Regions from separate parts of the Homo sapiens genome. Here region 1 is linked to region 2. The links come from fine-mapping of genetic effects on gene expression. Tissue or cell type: lung. Region 2 holds a variant in brackets; the other region holds the start of a gene. All regions are shown on one strand. Distances are between the middles of the regions.

The links. PIP is the estimated chance that this variant, and not a neighbour inherited with it, causes the effect.
Region 1: CD164L2 starts here. The variant in region 2 is fine-mapped to the expression of CD164L2 in lung (GTEx, PIP above 0.99).

What each region holds. Positions count from the first base shown.
Region 1 is chr1:27,381,750-27,384,427 of GRCh38, reverse strand. CD164L2 (CD164 molecule like 2) reads left to right here and starts at 1,095. Exons shown (of 6, transcript NM_001330448.1): 1 at 1,095-1,276; 2 at 1,761-1,928; 3 at 2,029-2,100; 4 at 2,604-2,648. The coding sequence starts at 1,189.
Region 2 is chr1:27,050,147-27,052,824 of GRCh38, reverse strand. All of the region lies in intron 5 of LOC101928391 (a long non-coding RNA gene), which reads right to left. Among named protein-coding and RNA genes, the nearest start is that of TENT5B, 39 kb to the right of the region's middle. RefSeq lists enhancers at 1,556-2,371, 2,372-2,678. The variant C/T (reference allele first, on the strand shown) is at 1,276.

The DNA.
Region 1 (2,678 bases), 330 kb before region 2:
TGGCCTGGAGATGATTAAGAGATCTGTTGGCTCAAAAAAAATTTTTTTAATGGGTGCATAGTGGGTGTATATATTTATTGGGATACGTGACCTGTTGGCATTCATTCATTCATTCATTTAAAACAGGGTTTCACTCTGTTGCGCAGGCTGGAGTGCAATGCCATGATCACAGCTCACTACAGCCTCAAATCCCTGGGCTCAAGCAATCCTCCTGCCTCAGCTGTTGGGTTTCAAGTGGGGACTGATGGCAGTGGAATGTCCAGGATGACCCCAGGAGAGTGTGGAACAGGGCTTGGGACTAACCTGGGCCACCATCGATTAAGAGAGGGTTAGGAGAAGCAGATGGGGGAAGGAGGGGAGAGGAGGGGAGGAGGAAGAGGAAGGAGAGGAAGTGCCCCCTAAGGAGCCTGAGGAGAACCAAAAGAGGCTGGTGCCAGGGCAGGAGTGGTAGCCGTGGGGAAGGCTGCGGAGAGGCCCAGTTGGCCTAGTAATGGCGTCACCCCTGACCTGGCCAGAGGGTGTGGTAGGCCAGAGGCAGACACAGCGGATGAGGGGCAGAAGGGAGGCGGGTGGAGGGGTGCAGTGAATGGAGAGGGAGCACCGAAGCTAAGCTTGGGCAGCCAGAGGGCAGGGGCCAGCTAGGGCCCGGCCCAGCGGTCATGGGGCCTGGGTGGAGGGTGTACAAAGCGGGGCCTGCACCGAGCCCTGAAGGCAGGGAAGTGACCTCGTCTCGAATCCAGATTTTTGCCACTGCCTCTCTCCGTGACCTCGAACGAGTCACTCATCTTGTCTGAGCCTCAGTTTCCTCACCTGTGAAGTAAGGATCAAAGCAGTCGGTACTTTCCAGAATTTTCAAGAAGCTGCCCTTGGAGGCACATAGTAACCACGCCAGCCACCAGTCCTGGACCCCACCTGCTTTAGTCCAAGCCCCGCCCCAGACCCCCGAACTCACCTGGCCGCGCACACTAGCCACGCCCCTAACTGGCCCCGCCTTCACCTGGCTCCGCCCCGACCGACGAGCCCCGCCCCACCTGCCGCTCCCACTGGCCACGCCCCCACCTGGCCACGCCCCGGTTGCCCAGGTCTCGCTCCGCACACGCTCAGCCGAGCCCAGTCTGGGAGGGACGCGCCCGGCAGCTGTCCACCGATCCCGGCCACCGCCCCCGGCCACCCCCACCCCGCGAGCCCATGGAGGCTCCGGGACCCCGCGCCTTGCGGACTGCGCTCTGTGGCGGCTGTTGCTGCCTCCTCCTATGTGCCCAGCTGGCTGTGGCTGGTAACTCGCGGCAGGGTCTGGCTAGGGGCTCGACGGGGACGGATGGAGCTTGCACCTCAGCCAGCCGTCTCCCCAGGAGCAGCCTGGGCTTGAGGGGAGGGGGCTTTCCGGCCAAGTGCAGGCCTCCAGGGGTGGGAGAGGGGGCTCCAGCTCTGTGTGGAGCCCTGTGTGTAAATATAGGCCCCAGGTGTGGGGGCCTAGGGAGCTTCAGGTGGTCTGGGGGAGGTGGCTCCAACTGAATCTGGGAACCCCGGGTGTATGCAAAGGGAGGGGCTCTGGGTGAATGTGGGGAGGCTCTAGGTGTGTGTAGACCTCTGCTGTGGAAGCTCCAGGTGTGCGCTGGGGCTTGGGGATCCAGGGGTGAGTGTGAGAGCCCAGATGTGTGCAGAGGGGCGAGGGCCACCGGAGTGTTGGGTGGGAGGGTGGGCGGGTGCCACAGCTTGGCTTCGAGGAATTCTCCCTTCCCACTCCACCGCACTACCAGGTAAAGGAGCTCGAGGCTTTGGGAGGGGAGCCCTGATCCGCCTGAATATCTGGCCGGCGGTCCAAGGGGCCTGCAAACAGCTGGAGGTCTGTGAGCACTGCGTGGAGGGAGACGGAGCGCGCAATCTCTCCAGCTGCGTGTGGGAGCAGTGCCGGCCAGAGGAGCCAGGTATGGAGCTGAGCCCTCCCCAGATTGAGTGCCCCCAGCTCTGAACCCCAAGGCCCTGGCCCCTCTCCCCAAACCTCCCCCCTGCACCTTCTCTCACCAGGACACTGTGTGGCCCAATCTGAGGTGGTCAAGGAAGGTTGCTCCATCTACAACCGCTCAGAGGCATGTCCAGGTAAGGGGGTTCTTGCACCTAAGCCAAGTTGCATGGGTCTCCCCAGCCATAGCCTGCCCCCCAGGAGGAAACAGCCTCTCTCAGGCGGTGGATTTTGCTCACCCATACCTGGGCCCGGTATCAGTTCTGCCTTTAGCTCACTGAGAAGTCCCCTCCTCTCTCTGCCTATTTCCTCATCTGAAAATTAGTACAGGTGTGTGGAGGGGATGGGAGTGTTAGCTCTTCTTCTAGTTTAAGGCATAGCAAGGACTTTGGAAGTTCAGAGGGAATGAGAGGGAGTGCTTCCTGGAGGAGGTGGCATCAGTAATGAGCCTGGAAGGTAGAGATGGAGAGAGAGCACATCTGGTGGAGGGAACTGTGTGGGGCTTGCAAGTATGTTGGATGTCTAGAGTAGGGACAGGGCTGCATCTGAATCGGAAGTTTAGCGGTGAGTGGGGGCTGGGGTCTTGATGGGAGTCAGGGGGTGGGAAGGCTGCTTTGCTATGGATCACCTGTCTCCTCAGCTGCTCACCACCACCCCACCTATGAACCGAAGACAGTCACAACAGGTGAGTACTCCCTGGAGACGGGGCAGTGGG
Region 2 (2,678 bases):
TTTCTTGGCCCTCAGCTGTGTTAACTGCCCTAGGACCTGCCCCACCCCTACGCCATCATGGCTGGGAGTCCACCCCTACCCCGCCATTGCTGATTGGACCAGGGATGGGCACCTGACACGGCTGAGCCAATTAGATTCTGTCTGCCAGGAAATTGGAGCAGAGACAAGTCTCTGGTACCAAGTCTAGCTGTGCTCCACAGTGAGAGCCCATGAACCCCCGCTGTTAGCATCCACAGGACTGCCCTGGTCCCTGCCCTTCCTGGGCCTTGGCTCTTCAATTTCCCTTTGTACTGTGACGCACTCTGGCACCCTCCCACTGGATTCCACTTTTTTTTTTTTTGGAGGTGGAGTCTCGCTCTGTCGCCCAGGCTGGAGAGCAGTAGCGCAATGTTGGCTCACTGCAAGCTCCGCCTCCCGGGTTCAAGCACTTCTGCCTCAGCCTCCCAAGTAGCTGGGACTACAGGCGAGGCAGCTGGGACTACAGGCGCATGCCGCCACGCCCGGCTAATTTTTTGTATTTTAGTAGAGACGGGTTTTCGCCGTGTTGCTCAGGCTGGCCTTGAACTCTTGAGCTCAGGTAATACGCCCACCTCGGCCTCCCAAAGTGCTAGGATTACAGGCGTGAGCCACCGCGCCCGGCCTTGGATTCCACTTTTGGCTGAGTTGGCTTCTGTCACTGGCCTCCAAAAGAACCTTCACTGTAGCTGGCTGGTAGAGTGAGATGAGGATAGAGTTAGTGGGTTCAAGGTTGTCCCTGTGGTCTTAAACTGGGCTGTCCCTAAGAAATGGGCTCATCTAGTCAGTTTCCTGAGGAAACCATGAAATGCCAAAGGCTGAGGCTGTTGTTGGAACAGCTGTGGCAGTCGCTGGAGGACCCCTTTTTGCTATGGCCAGAACAGGCTGCTGAAACACAGAAAGTGCCAGTGAGTGAGGGGCAAAGCAGGAAGTGAGCCACTGGGAAGTTGGTGGGGCCTGCACGGGGCATCTTCCTCATCCTTCTTCAAACACAGAGCCCCTCATGGATAGAAGATGCTTAAACCCATTTATGCCTAGTGTTCCATTATTGGAACACTAAGCATGTGGGAGTTATTTATATCCTACTGCTCAAGGGCACCGCCAAGGTCTCATTGCAAAAATTCAAAAAATTGCAACCTCAGGCATAAATGGGTTCTCTTAGGTAGTTCTCGGAGGCATGGGAACCACTGAGTATAAAGTTTGAAGATTTACCTGAAGATTAACCCAAAGGCTGGTGAGGTAGCCAGCCTCCAAGATGGC[C/T]CCAGCAACCCCTACCTCCTGCTAGTTACAACCTTGTGTGGTCTTCTCTCACATTAAATAGGGTTGGCCTGGGTGACCAAGGGAGTACAGCAGGAGTGATAGCGTGTGATTTTCAAGGCTAGGCCATAAAAGAGATTGGTGGCTTCAACCCTGCCATGTTGGAACGCTTCCTCTTGGGGAGGGCAGCCACCATGTTGTGAGGATGTACAAGCAGCCCTGTGGAGAAGCCCATGCGTGAGGAACCAAGGCCGCCTGTCATCAATCAGCACCAACTTGCCAACTATGTGAGCTGCCTTGGGAGCAGATCCTCCAGCCCCAGTCAGGCCTTCAGGAGTCGGTCATCCCAGCTGACATCTTTTTTTTTTTTTGAGATGGACTCTTGCTGTCACCCAGGCTGGAGTGTAATGGCGCGATCTTGGCTCACTGCAACCTCTGCCTCCTGGGTTCAAATAATTCTCCTGCCTCAGCCTCCTGAGTAGCTGGAATTACAGGTGCGTGCCACCATGCCTGGCTAATTTTTGTATTTTTAGTTGAGAAGGTGTTTCACCATGTTGTCCAGGCTGGTCTCAAACTCCTGACCTCATATGATCTGCCCGCCTTGGCCTCCCAAAGTGCTGGGATTACAGGCGTGAGCCACCACGCCCAGTCCCAGCTGACATCTTGACCACAACTTTAAGAGAGACCCTGAATCAGGGCCACCCAGCTAAGCTGCTCCTGGATTCCTGACCCTCAGAAGCTCAGTGAGAGGATAAATGTATACAAATGTATATTGGTTTTGGGGTTTTTGTTGTTGTTGTTGTTGTTGTTGTTGTTGTTGTTGAGACGGAGTTTCACTCTTGTTGCCCAGGCTGGCGTGCAGGGGCACAATCTCGGCTCACTGCAACCTCTGCCTCCCAGGTTCAAATGATTCTCCTGCCTCACCCTCCCGAATAGCTGGAATTACAGGCATGCACCACCACACCCGGCTAATTTTTTGTATTTTTAGTAGAGATGGGGTTTCTCCATGTTGGTCAGGCTGATCTCAAACTCCTGACCTCAGGTGATCCGCCCGCCTTGGCCTCCCAAAGTGGTGGGATTACAGGCGTGAGCCATCATGCCTGGCCAAATGTATATTGTTTTAAGCTGCTAAGTTTGGGGATGATTTGTGCCCTACGAATAGATCTCTAAAATACCTGAGGATAAGAATGTGCTGGGCTTGGAATATCTCCAGAAATCACTCATAAAGGCGGTAATGGAGTGAGGCTGTGTGGCCCAGATTTGCCTCAGTGGGACTTCAGGCACCAAAGGCAGCTGTGCAGAGCCCTCCACCTTCTCCTGTATCTGCCCCTTTGGAAACGGAGGGAGGGAGCCCACGCCATAGGACACGGCTGCTAACATTCCTGGCCCTCTCAGGTGCACCCTGC